2 separate regions of the Homo sapiens genome follow, and region 2 is linked to region 1. The links come from fine-mapping of genetic effects on gene expression. A gene starts in region 1. The other region holds a variant in brackets. All regions are shown on one strand. Distances are from middle to middle. Region 1 holds the start of FBXO30 (F-box protein 30). Region 2 has its middle 120 kb from the start of EPM2A-DT.

Region 1 (5,380 bases):
GACTGTGCATAGTGTTTGGTAGAGAAAAGAAGGAAACAAATCAGGCTACAATGAAAGATTTACTTTGAGCAACTGCAGACAGGAGTTGAGACTGTATCTCATGGGCTCTAGATAGCCATCTGCTATGGTCTGAATGGTTTTGTCCCCTTCTCAAAAATTCATGTTGAAACTTAACCCCAATGCAACAGTGTTGGAAAGTATGGCCTTTGGGAGGTGACTGAGTTTTAAGAGCTCTGCCCTAATGAATGGGATTAGATGCCCTTATAAGAGGGCTGGGCAAAGGGAATTTGACTTTTGTCCCTTCAACTTCTGCTATAAGGACAGAGCTTTCCTCCTCTCCAGAGGAAGAGGTGTTCAAGGTGCTATCTTAGAAGCACAGATGGGATGTTTACCAGACAACCAAATCTGCCCATGCCTTGATCTTGAACTTCCCAGCCTCCAGAATTGTGAGAAAATAAATTTTTCTTCTTTATAATTATAGTTTCTTGTAATTTATAATTACCCAGTCTGTAATATTTTGTTATAGCAGCATAAACAGACTGTGACAGTTAATACTGAGTGTCAACTTGATTGGCTTGAAGGATGTAAAGTATTGATCATAGGTGTGTCTGTGAGGGTGCTGCCAAAGGAGATTAACATTTGAGTCAGTGGGCTGGGAAAGGCAGACCCACCCTTAATCTAGGTGGGCACCATCTAATCAGCTGCCAGTACAGTTAGGATATAAAGCAGGCAGAAAAACATGAAAAGGCTAGACTGGCCTAGCCTCCCAGCCTACATCTTTCTCCTATGCTGGATGCTTTCTGCCCTTGAACATCAGACTCCAAGTTCTTCAGTTTTGGAACTCAAACTGGCTCTCCTTGTTCCTCAGCTTGCAGATGGCCTATTGTGGGACCTTGTGATCGTGTGAGTTAATACTTAATAAACTCCCTTTTATGTGTATCTATCCTATTAGTTCTGTCCCTCTAGAGAACCCTAATACACATACTAAAACATCATCCCAGCCAGGTGAATATAAAAATAACAAGATAAAATGGGTGTCTTAGGAAGAATTGTGTTGATAGGGGATTTGAGATAGGAGATACTGCAGGAGAAAGGACTGGTTAGGCAACAGCAGACATCCAAATTTGTTTAAGACAGTAATGTTAAAAAAAAAAAAAAAAACTTCAGCCAAATTAAATTTAAAGGAGTTTGAGCAACGAACAATTCACGCATCAGGCAGCCTCCTGAGCCAGAGTAGGCTTTGAGACTCCAGCGCAGCCACATGGTGGAAGATGATTTAGGACAGAAGAAGGAAAGCGACATACAGAAAACGGAACTGAGGTACAGAAACAGCTGGATTGGTTACAGGTTGGGGTTTGCCTTATTTGAACAAGGTTCGAACAACTGGCTACATTTGATTGGCCAAACTCAATGATTGACAGAAGTGTGGGCTATGGTCTGTTTACTCCTCCACTTATTATAGTTCACGGTGTACACAGAAACCTTTAGGCTGAACGTAAAATATGTAAGGAGGCTGCTTTAGGCTAAACTTGATTTAACAGTAACTAGGGATGAAGGTGAAAGAAAAAAAGGATTTTAAATAATTGTCTGGACATGGAAAATTATTGAGATGAAGGGACAAAGAAGACAATGAGGTTTCCAACCTGAATGACTCAACTTCAGGCGAGTGAGGGTGACCTAGTGTCAGCTAGGTGACTTAGTAAAAGGTAAAGCCCCAGATCTCAATAAGTATAATTAGAGATTCACAGAATTTTAAAGCTGGAAAGGGCTCTAGAGATAATCTATTTTAGATCCTTTATAAGAGGACAGCTAAAGCAAAACAAAGGTCTGTGACTCAATCCAGGACAGTGAGCATTGAGCGGGGCTATAGTGTAGCAGCACCTACATCCTCTCCCACTGGGCCATCCTGCCTGTTTCCCCATCCTGACCATGTAGCTCTCTGGACAGTGGCTCTCAAGGTCTGAACCGAGGACCAGAGCCTGTCTACAGCCAAATCAGGCAAAATAAGGGGAACAGATAATTTTTCAAAAAGTTAATCATTTAAGGAATCAACCTTTACTCTGTAATCTAAGTTCCTAACTCAGTTTTTGTTTTGTTTTGTTTAATTTACGGATCTGAAAAACCCACAGGCTTTCTCTGTAGGATAGCAAATTATGTGTGAGCTCTCTTTCCCAAAGCACAACAGCAAGGGGTAAAGATGCAGCCACAAAAAGGATGACAACAGTGTTTTCCTGGCTCTGCCCCCATCCCCACTGCCAGGATTACAACCATCTTTCCTTTGTTGTAATTCTCTTGCGACGGGGTGGGCAGGAGTCCCCGACAGAGGGGTGGGGGCGGGTGAGCGGCTCCCAACACCCAGAGCTCGGAATCACTGTCCCTCGGCCGTAGACCAAGGCTTGGTGGTGGTAGCGGGGGCGTGGACATCCATCCATTCTTTGATACAGCCCTGTGGGATTTCTTTACTCCCCAGTCATATGTAAGGTACACTGCAAAAGCGGCTTCAAGTCCCCTCCCCAGCTAATTACCTTCGCGGAATGACGCCTCGGCCCCTCACAGAAGCAGACCCTGGTGGGCTGTCCCGTCCGGGCTCCAGAGAGGCTCCGCCGCCCGCCGGGATCCAGGGCTGAGCTCTCCCGGGGGGAGGTAAAACCCGACAGGGGATAACGGGTCACAGCACCGTCCTGGCACTAAGTCACGGGACTTGGGCACGCTGAGTTAGCCGGCGGGAAGGCCTGTGGCGGCAATCACCAAAGGTCGAGCAAGGGCGCACCCATTTCCTCCAAAAATGAGCTAAAGGGAAAGCAGTGCCCCAGAGTCAAGGGATCGGGGCTGCTGCTCCTTCGACTAGCGGCGCGAACAAGTCATGCTACTTGGGCCTGTTTCCTCAACTGTAAAATGAGGGGTCTAGGATTCCCTCTGGGAATGTACGATTCTAAAATCGAACAGGGTTTGGTAGCACCGCCGGGGCGGAGCCTTACGGGGCGCCGCGGGAATCCAACGACAGGACTCGCCACAGTGGGAGCTCTCTCCAGACCCTACTCTAGCCACGACGCTGCGGGGTCAGAGGGCGGCGTGCGCGTCCCCGCCGGGACTGCGTGCGCGTCCCCGCCCAGCTGTCGGCAGAAGCCGGGCCGGGTGGGCGGGGCGCAGCGGGGCGGGGCGCGCGAGGAGGGTGGCTGCCTCTGGAGCAGGCCGGGAGAAGAGAAAAGGCGGCGGCCCGGCTGGGGAAGAGGGGCGGAGGAGGCGGTTCGGACGGCTGTGTGGGGTACGGAGCGTCGCCGGGACAGAGCGGAGCAGCTGGGCACGGCGTCCAGGGCAGCTAGGGCCTGGGCCGCGGTTCGGCCGCGCCGGCCGGTGAGTGACGGGAGGCCCGCAGGGGAGGCCGGCGCCGTCCGCGCTGCGGCGGGGACGAAGGCAGCGGCCGGGCAGTTTGAGGCCGCGGCCGGGACCGAGGCGCTGGCGCTGGCGGCCGTGGGGTTGACGGGCCCGGCCTGGAGCAGAGGAAAGGCGGCTGACCCCGGTCCATGCGCGTCCCGGGTCGGCCGTCCGGGCGCCCTGAGAGGGCGTCCGCCGCGCTCGTGTCCTCGCCGGGCCGCATGCCGGGCCAGCCGTTGAGGTCAGCAAATGGCGACTTAAGCCTCGAGGGCACCGACCTCCGTGTCCCCCCCAGTTTGTGTGTCTTTGTATTGGGAAGGGACGAAGGAGGAGTTAAACTTAGGGAACCCTAAGCTTCTCGTTCCGTCTGGTTTTTAGAAACTTGGGTTATTTGGGGACAAATGGCTTAAAGTAAGACTGGGGAGGCATCATCCACTGTCTGCACGGGATGAGCAAAGTTGGTAACTTTGCCATTCATGGAAGTGAGAGGATCTTAGCCTTAGCCTCGGTCCTTATTAAAGGGGAACTTCCTTATTTTGCAGACCTGAGGTTATTTGTGTTGTTCCAAGACCTGCGCCTTGGAACTCCTTTGCTTGGAAGGGGTTTATAGAGCGCGTGCTGAATTCAAAGTAATCTGCCAGTATGTTTTTAACGGGTATATTTGGGAGTATAGAGGCAAAGAGGCAAAACAGTATGTGTTTACCAATGTCCTAGTACTCCATTTCCCTCTCCCTTTCTCTTGTTTTTCTTATTGAGCCCTGTTGTAAGTCCCAGATAAAAGATGCTTGGGAACGAATTGACCTTTTATTCCATGATTACTTCGTTGACTCTGATCCAAGATGAAGTTATTTATGGGCATTCTGATATCGGTGTAGATTAATTTAAAATCTTTTAATACAAAATCCCAAACTTTTTAAATTTTAATTTCCATTTGCTAAATTTCAATACTGTTTGTTCTTTAGAGACCTATGGAAATTATATTAACAGGTTTTGCATTTGCTCATACTAAGGTTTTCCAAAGCAGTCCAATTGTTGACATGGCAAAAGGAAAAGAGTAGCATAAAATAAACCTTTAGGATTTTTCAGAGGGTTAGATTTCAATATGCGGTTTCCGCTGAATCACTCTTCTTCATGCTTAGTCACTGTTTCTCATCACAAAAGTTTAATTGGGGATAACATGGTGTTTTGCTGACTTTTTAAATTGCCAATTTGTTTTTACCTAGCACTTTAATGCCGTGACGTAACTTTTTTTTTTTTTTTTAATTCTGGAAATGGTGGAGTTTCGTGAATGCTGTAAGAGAACTGAAGTTTCGAATATAGGCAAACTTTAATGTATACCAAGTGTACTAGGTATTTAATTTCAATCCAGTATTTCTCCCGGTCTAGCATTGGGAGACTTCTTCTAAAAAGTGTCCTAATATATCATTAAAAAGCAATATTATATAAGTAATGCTAACGTGTATAGAGAGGTACTTTAAGGTCACCAAAATAGGCATTGGTTAATGCTTACTGTTTGATATAACATGTTTCTAAGATGTGAATATTTTAATGGATAAGCGCTATGCTATTCTGTATGATTTTGGATAAATATTTTAATTCAGTTCCTAAGACTGCTTATTTGATAGAAGGAGTTAGTACATATTATGGAATGTCATTGTATTTGTAGAATTTTTTGACATAAAACAATTGAGTCAAAGGCTGTATAAAATATAAATTCAAATTCAGTGTGATGAAATAGAGGAGATTGGCCTTAGACAAGTTGCTTCTATATTTTAGGTAGCTAGATGTTAGATACAGACAAGCGGATCAGTTAAAACCCAGTCTGTGAAAATCTTTTTTTTAAAGAATGAGTAATGTTATTACTAGGTAGTTCTTCATATGATTGCATTTAATTAATGATCTCATAAAAATAATTACACGTAAAATTTTTGTGTATATAAGTGTGGCTGTTGTGCAAATCGAAGTACATCTGGTTTCTGAGAACTACATGTTTATATCCTATTGG
Region 2 (5,385 bases), 200 kb after region 1:
TTGCACAGTCTTGGTGAGAATGTAAATCAGTACAGCCGTTATGGAAAACAATATGGAGTTTTCTAAAAAAATTAAACCTATAACTTCCATTTAATTCAGCAGTCTCACTTCTGGGTATATATCCAAAGTAAATAAAATCAGTATCTTGAAGAAATTTCTGCACTTCCATGTTCATTGCAGCATTATTTGTGATAGTCAAGTATGGTAACTAAGTATCCAATGACAGATGAATGAATAAAGACAATGTGGTGGATATATAAACAGTGGAATATTATTCAGCCTTAAACAGAAGGAAATCTCATCATTTGCAACAACAGCGTTAAAACTTGAGGACCTTGTGCTAAGTAAAATAAGCCAGGCACAGAAAGACAAATACTTCATAATCTCATTTATATGTGGAATCTTTAAAAAGCCAAATTCATGTAACAGTGAATAAAATGGTAGTTACCAGGGGCTGAGAAGTTGGAGGAAAGAGGAGATGTTGGTCAAATGGTACAAACCTTTAGTTTTAAGATGAATAAGTCCTGGAGACCTAATTAATTACAACATGATGATGACAATAATAATGTATTGTATACTTGAAATTTGCTAAGAACACAGTAGATCACAAGTGTCCTCACCATAAAAAAGGGAGGTATATGAGATAATGGATATGTTAATTAGCTTGATTGTGGTAATCATTTCCCAATGTATGTATAATTGTACACCCTAAATAATACAATATTTGACAGTTATACCTCAATAAGGCTGAAAAAATTGCTGTTATTTAAAAACTGAACAATATGCAATTACTATTAAATGAACTAGTATGGCACCAGAATGGTGTGGATTATAAAGGAGAAAATTAGCAGAAACTAGACAGTGAAAGAATGGAGAGCTGGACCTTGAACAGAACAGGTCATTGTCATTACCATACTTATCAAGACTTTATCAATTTCTAGTGAGAGAAAACTCAGAATTCACTGAATAGAATTTACTGTTCGCTGTATATAAAATGGTTAAAAGTGGAATTATATATTTTTATTTGATAGAAATCCTTATTGCTGCCTTCTTAATATTAAATGACTAATCTAAAGATGGAAATAAGGCCTAAACCAGTGGTCTCCAACCCCTGTGGCTCAGTTCCTAACAGGCCACAGTAGTGGTCCATGGCCTGTTAGGAACCGGGCCACACAGCAGGAAGTGAGTGGCAGGTCAGTGAGCTTTACTGCCTGAGCTCTGCCTCCTGTCAGATCAGCAGCGGCATCAGATTGTCAGCGGATTGTGAACTGTATTGTGAACTGCACATGCGAGGGATCTAGGTTGCACGCTCCTTATGAGAATCTATCTAATGCACGATGATCTGAGGTGGAACAGTGTCATCCCAAAACCATACTCCCCTCGCCTCCCTGTCCATGGAAAAAATGTCTTTCACAAAACTGGTCCCTGGTTCCAAAAAGGTTGGGGACCACTGGTCTAAACAATTTCAGAGATTTTACACCCATAGTGGATAAACAAAGTGAGTATCCCTCATTCTTTATAGACTGGTGTTTAAACGATGCTAATTACTGCTCAGCACCTCATATGTTTCAGGGGCTTAAGCCATGTTTATATGTTAGGATTTCTGATAATATTTAGACCTGTTTGCATTTGTTCATTTTTTTATTTCAAAAATGTTTTGACCTTTTCTATGTGTCTCTTCTTGCTTTTTATTTTTTATAATTATGTCTTCCTCCTTACAACGGAGAACTTTAACACTGACTTATGCTCACTGGTATTTATACTTCCTTCATGTTGACATGATTACAACTATAATTATGAGTTGTTTTAGATATACTTCCTCTTTTTCTTTTTGTGTTCTTAAATTTTTTTTTTAATTGTGAGGAAGGCAAAAAAGAAATGTTGGTGGGGACATAATCTTCATTGCCGGACAGACCTATGATTACCACTCCACCCCATTTCTAGCTTTCTTAACTATCCTAGATTCCATTACTACTGAGAATTTAAGCCCAGTTACTCTCAAGGTTCCAGTGAGCTTATGAGTGCCCAGCTCTCCTGCAGTACTGCATCCCCTCATAAGGTATTCTGAGTCACATCTTCCTTTGCTTTCCATCAGCTCACTTCCAAAATCATTCTATCATCCTGAGCTATCTTATCTGCTAGTAATCCTTCTTAACTGCCTCTTCATTGTTGCAGGTGAATTTCTGTCTTCAGATTTTATATTGTAATTTCCATTCAGATGTCAGGAGGAGTAGTGTGTTTGCCAGTTTAAACCAGAATTTTCTCAATCATCGTCTATAGTAATGATATCCAAATCTCAATCCCCATTCCACTGCTTTCTTCTGAGTACAAGGCTTATATATCAATTTGTTTCAAAACATCTT[T/A]CAGAATATCTCCCAAACTCAATATTCCCCAATTTTTTTTTTTTGCCAGACCTCCCATACTTTCTCTGTTGAGCAGACACTGGCAACATCTTCCCCTAATTTCCCAAGTTAGAAACTTGAATGCCATCTTTGCCATCTCTCCTCCATTTACCACCCTCCTAACCATTTGACAAATTACTTTCATTATGCTTCCTAAATATCTCTTAAATATAACTACTCCCCTCTGTCCACGCTGACCTGGATTGTTAAAGCTTCCTGGCTTATCTTCCTCTTGTAATCCTTACCCCTTTCAAGATCATTCTTGACACTGCTGCCTGAGAGACCTTTCTACTTCAAATATACTACTGTCTCTTTCTTGCTCAATATTCCTCAATGGCTCCTCGTTTTTCTCAGAAAAAAGTAAAAAATCCTTAACGTGACATTGTATTAGTCTGTTCTCACACTGCTAATAAAGACATACCTGAGACTGGGTAATTTATAAAGGAAAGAGGTTTAATTGACTCACAGTTTAGCATGGCCTGGGAGGCCTAAGGAAACTTATGATCATCGCAGAAGGAGAAGCAAACACCACCTTCTTCACATAGCAGCAGGAAGGAGAAGTGCTGAGCAAAAGGGGGAAAAGCCTTGTATCAAACCATCAGATCTCATGAGAACTCACTATCATGAGAACAACATGAGGATGACCACTGCCATGATTAAATTACCTCCCACTGGGTTTCTCCCATGACACATGGGGATTATGGGAACTACAATTCAAGATGAGATTTGGGTGGGGACACAACCAAACCATATCAGACATATGAGGGTCTTTACGATTTGTACTGTGTCCTTCTCTCCAATCTCTGTTGTCATTCTTATAACCATCTCCCAAAAGTGCTTGTTAGCCACAGTGAATTGCTTAAAGGTTCAACAATCTTTTGTATCCTTGGGGTTTTGCACATATTTTTTCCTCTGCCTGGAATCCTCTTCCCTCCTATCTATATCTGGTGAGCATCAACTCATCCTTTGGGTCTTTGAAGACACCCTCTCTGAGGCATCTTCATGAGTCCTCAAGGGTGCTTCTTCCAGGCATTTTCATAGAACCCCTCTTAATGTGCTGTACTATAACATGAGCTATAACATCATTAGGTAGAAACTGTAAACAGTGCTTGGCAAACAGGCTTTGGCCCATTCTATGACAGTTAAGCCAGGTACTCTTTGGATTCTGTGTTCAGATCTAATGTGTATTTTATTATGTTTTTTAATTAAAAAAATTTTTTTTGAGACAGGATCTTGCTTTGTCATCCAGGTTGGAGTACAGTGGTGCGATAACAGCTCATTGCAGCCTCTACCTTCCTGGGCTCAAGTGAGCCTCCCACCTCAGCTTCTTGAGTATCTGGGACTACCGGTGTTTGCCATCATACTAGGCTAATTTTTAAAAGTTTGTTCTAAAGATGGGGGTCTCACTATGTCACCCAGGCTGGTCTCAAACTCCTGGGATTAAGTGACACTCCTGCCTTGGTCTCCCAAAGTGTTGGCATTACAGGCATGAGCCACAGCACCAGGCCAGATCTAATGTATATTTCAATCTAAGAGAAATGTGAAGAAAATATTAAATGAGAACTTTAGTTTCCTGTAAGTCAATGAATGGGGTAATTTATTCAATGAAAGTACTATCAGTATCTTCATTTTGTGCCTTATTTTGTTTTAAGCATTTTAATAACGATTTCTCTTTCTATATAATACTAGTATTTAGTTATATTAAAGCAGAGTAACATCCTATAAAATATTGTGTTTTTAGCCTATCCTCTTTGTATTAGTCTGTGTTCATGCTGCTGATAAAGACATAATTGAGACTCGGTTATTTACACAGGAGGAAGGGATTTAATGGACTTACAGTTCCATGTGGCTGGGAAGGCCTCATAATCATGCTGGAAGGTGAACGGCACATCTCATATGGTAGCAGACAAGAGAAGAAGAAAACTTGTGCAGGGAAACTCCCCTTTTTAAAATCATCAGATCTTGTGAGACTTATTCACTATCATGAAGACAGCACAGAAAAGACCTGCCCCCATGATTCAGTTACCTCCTATTGGGTTCCTTCCACAACATGTGGCAATTCAAGATGAAATTTGGGTAGGGACACAGCCAATCCATATCATTCCACCCCTGACCCCTCCCAAATCTCACATCCTTATATTTCAAAACCAATGATGCCCTCCCAGCAGTCACCCAAAGTCTCAACTCATTTCAGCATTAACTCAAAAGTCCACAGTCCAAAGTCTCATCTGACACCAGGCAAGTTCCTTCCACCTATGAGCCTGTAAAATCAAAAGCAAGTTACTTCCTAGATACAATGGGGGTGCAGGCATTGGGTAAATACAATCATTCCAAATAGGAGACATTGGCCAAATCAAAGGGGCTACAGGCCCCATGCAAGTTCGATACCCAGTGGGACAGTCAAATCTTAAAATTCCAAAATGATCTCCTTTGACTCCATGTCTCATGTCCAGGTCACGCTGATGCAAGAGGTGGGTTCCCATGGCCTTGGGCAGCTCCACCCCTGTGGCTTTGCAGGGTATAGCCCCCCTGCTGGCTGCTTTCATGGGCTGGCATTGAGTATCTGTAGCTTTTCCAGGCACACAGTGCAAGCTGTCAGTGGATCTACCATTCTGGGGTCTGGAGGACTGTGGCCCTCTTCTCACAGCTCCACTAGGCAGTGCCCCAGTAGGGACTCTGAGTAGGTGCTCTGACCCCACATTTCCCTTCCTCGCTGCCCTAGCAGAGGTTCTCCATGAGAGCCCTGCCCCTGCAGCACACCTCTACCTGGGCATCCAAGCATTTCCATGCATCTTCTTAAATCTAGGCAGAGGTTCCCAAACCCCTATTCTTGACTTCTGTGCACTGGCAGGCTCAACACCACGTGGAAGCTGCCAAGGCTTGAGGCTTGCTCGCTCTGAAGCCATGGCCTGAGCTCTATGTTGGCCCCTTTCAGCCATGGCTGGAACAGCTGGGATGCAGGGCATCACATTTCTAGGCTGCA

The links. PIP is the estimated chance that this variant, and not a neighbour inherited with it, causes the effect.
Region 2: its variant is the best candidate, but not a certain one, in a credible set for the expression of FBXO30 in whole blood (INTERVAL, PIP 0.51).

What each region holds. Positions count from the first base shown.
Region 1 is chr6:145,812,577-145,817,956 of GRCh38, reverse strand. It overlaps FBXO30 (F-box protein 30), which reads left to right and starts at 3,162. Exons shown (of 3, transcript NM_032145.5): 1 at 3,162-3,354. All of the region lies in intron 1 of EPM2A-DT (EPM2A divergent transcript), which reads right to left. RefSeq lists enhancers at 2,072-2,141, 3,199-3,753 and a silencer at 2,982-3,521.
Region 2 is chr6:145,616,182-145,621,566 of GRCh38, reverse strand. It overlaps a transcript of EPM2A not described here. Among named protein-coding and RNA genes, the nearest start is that of EPM2A-DT, 120 kb to the left of the region's middle. The variant T/A (reference allele first, on the strand shown) is at 2,364.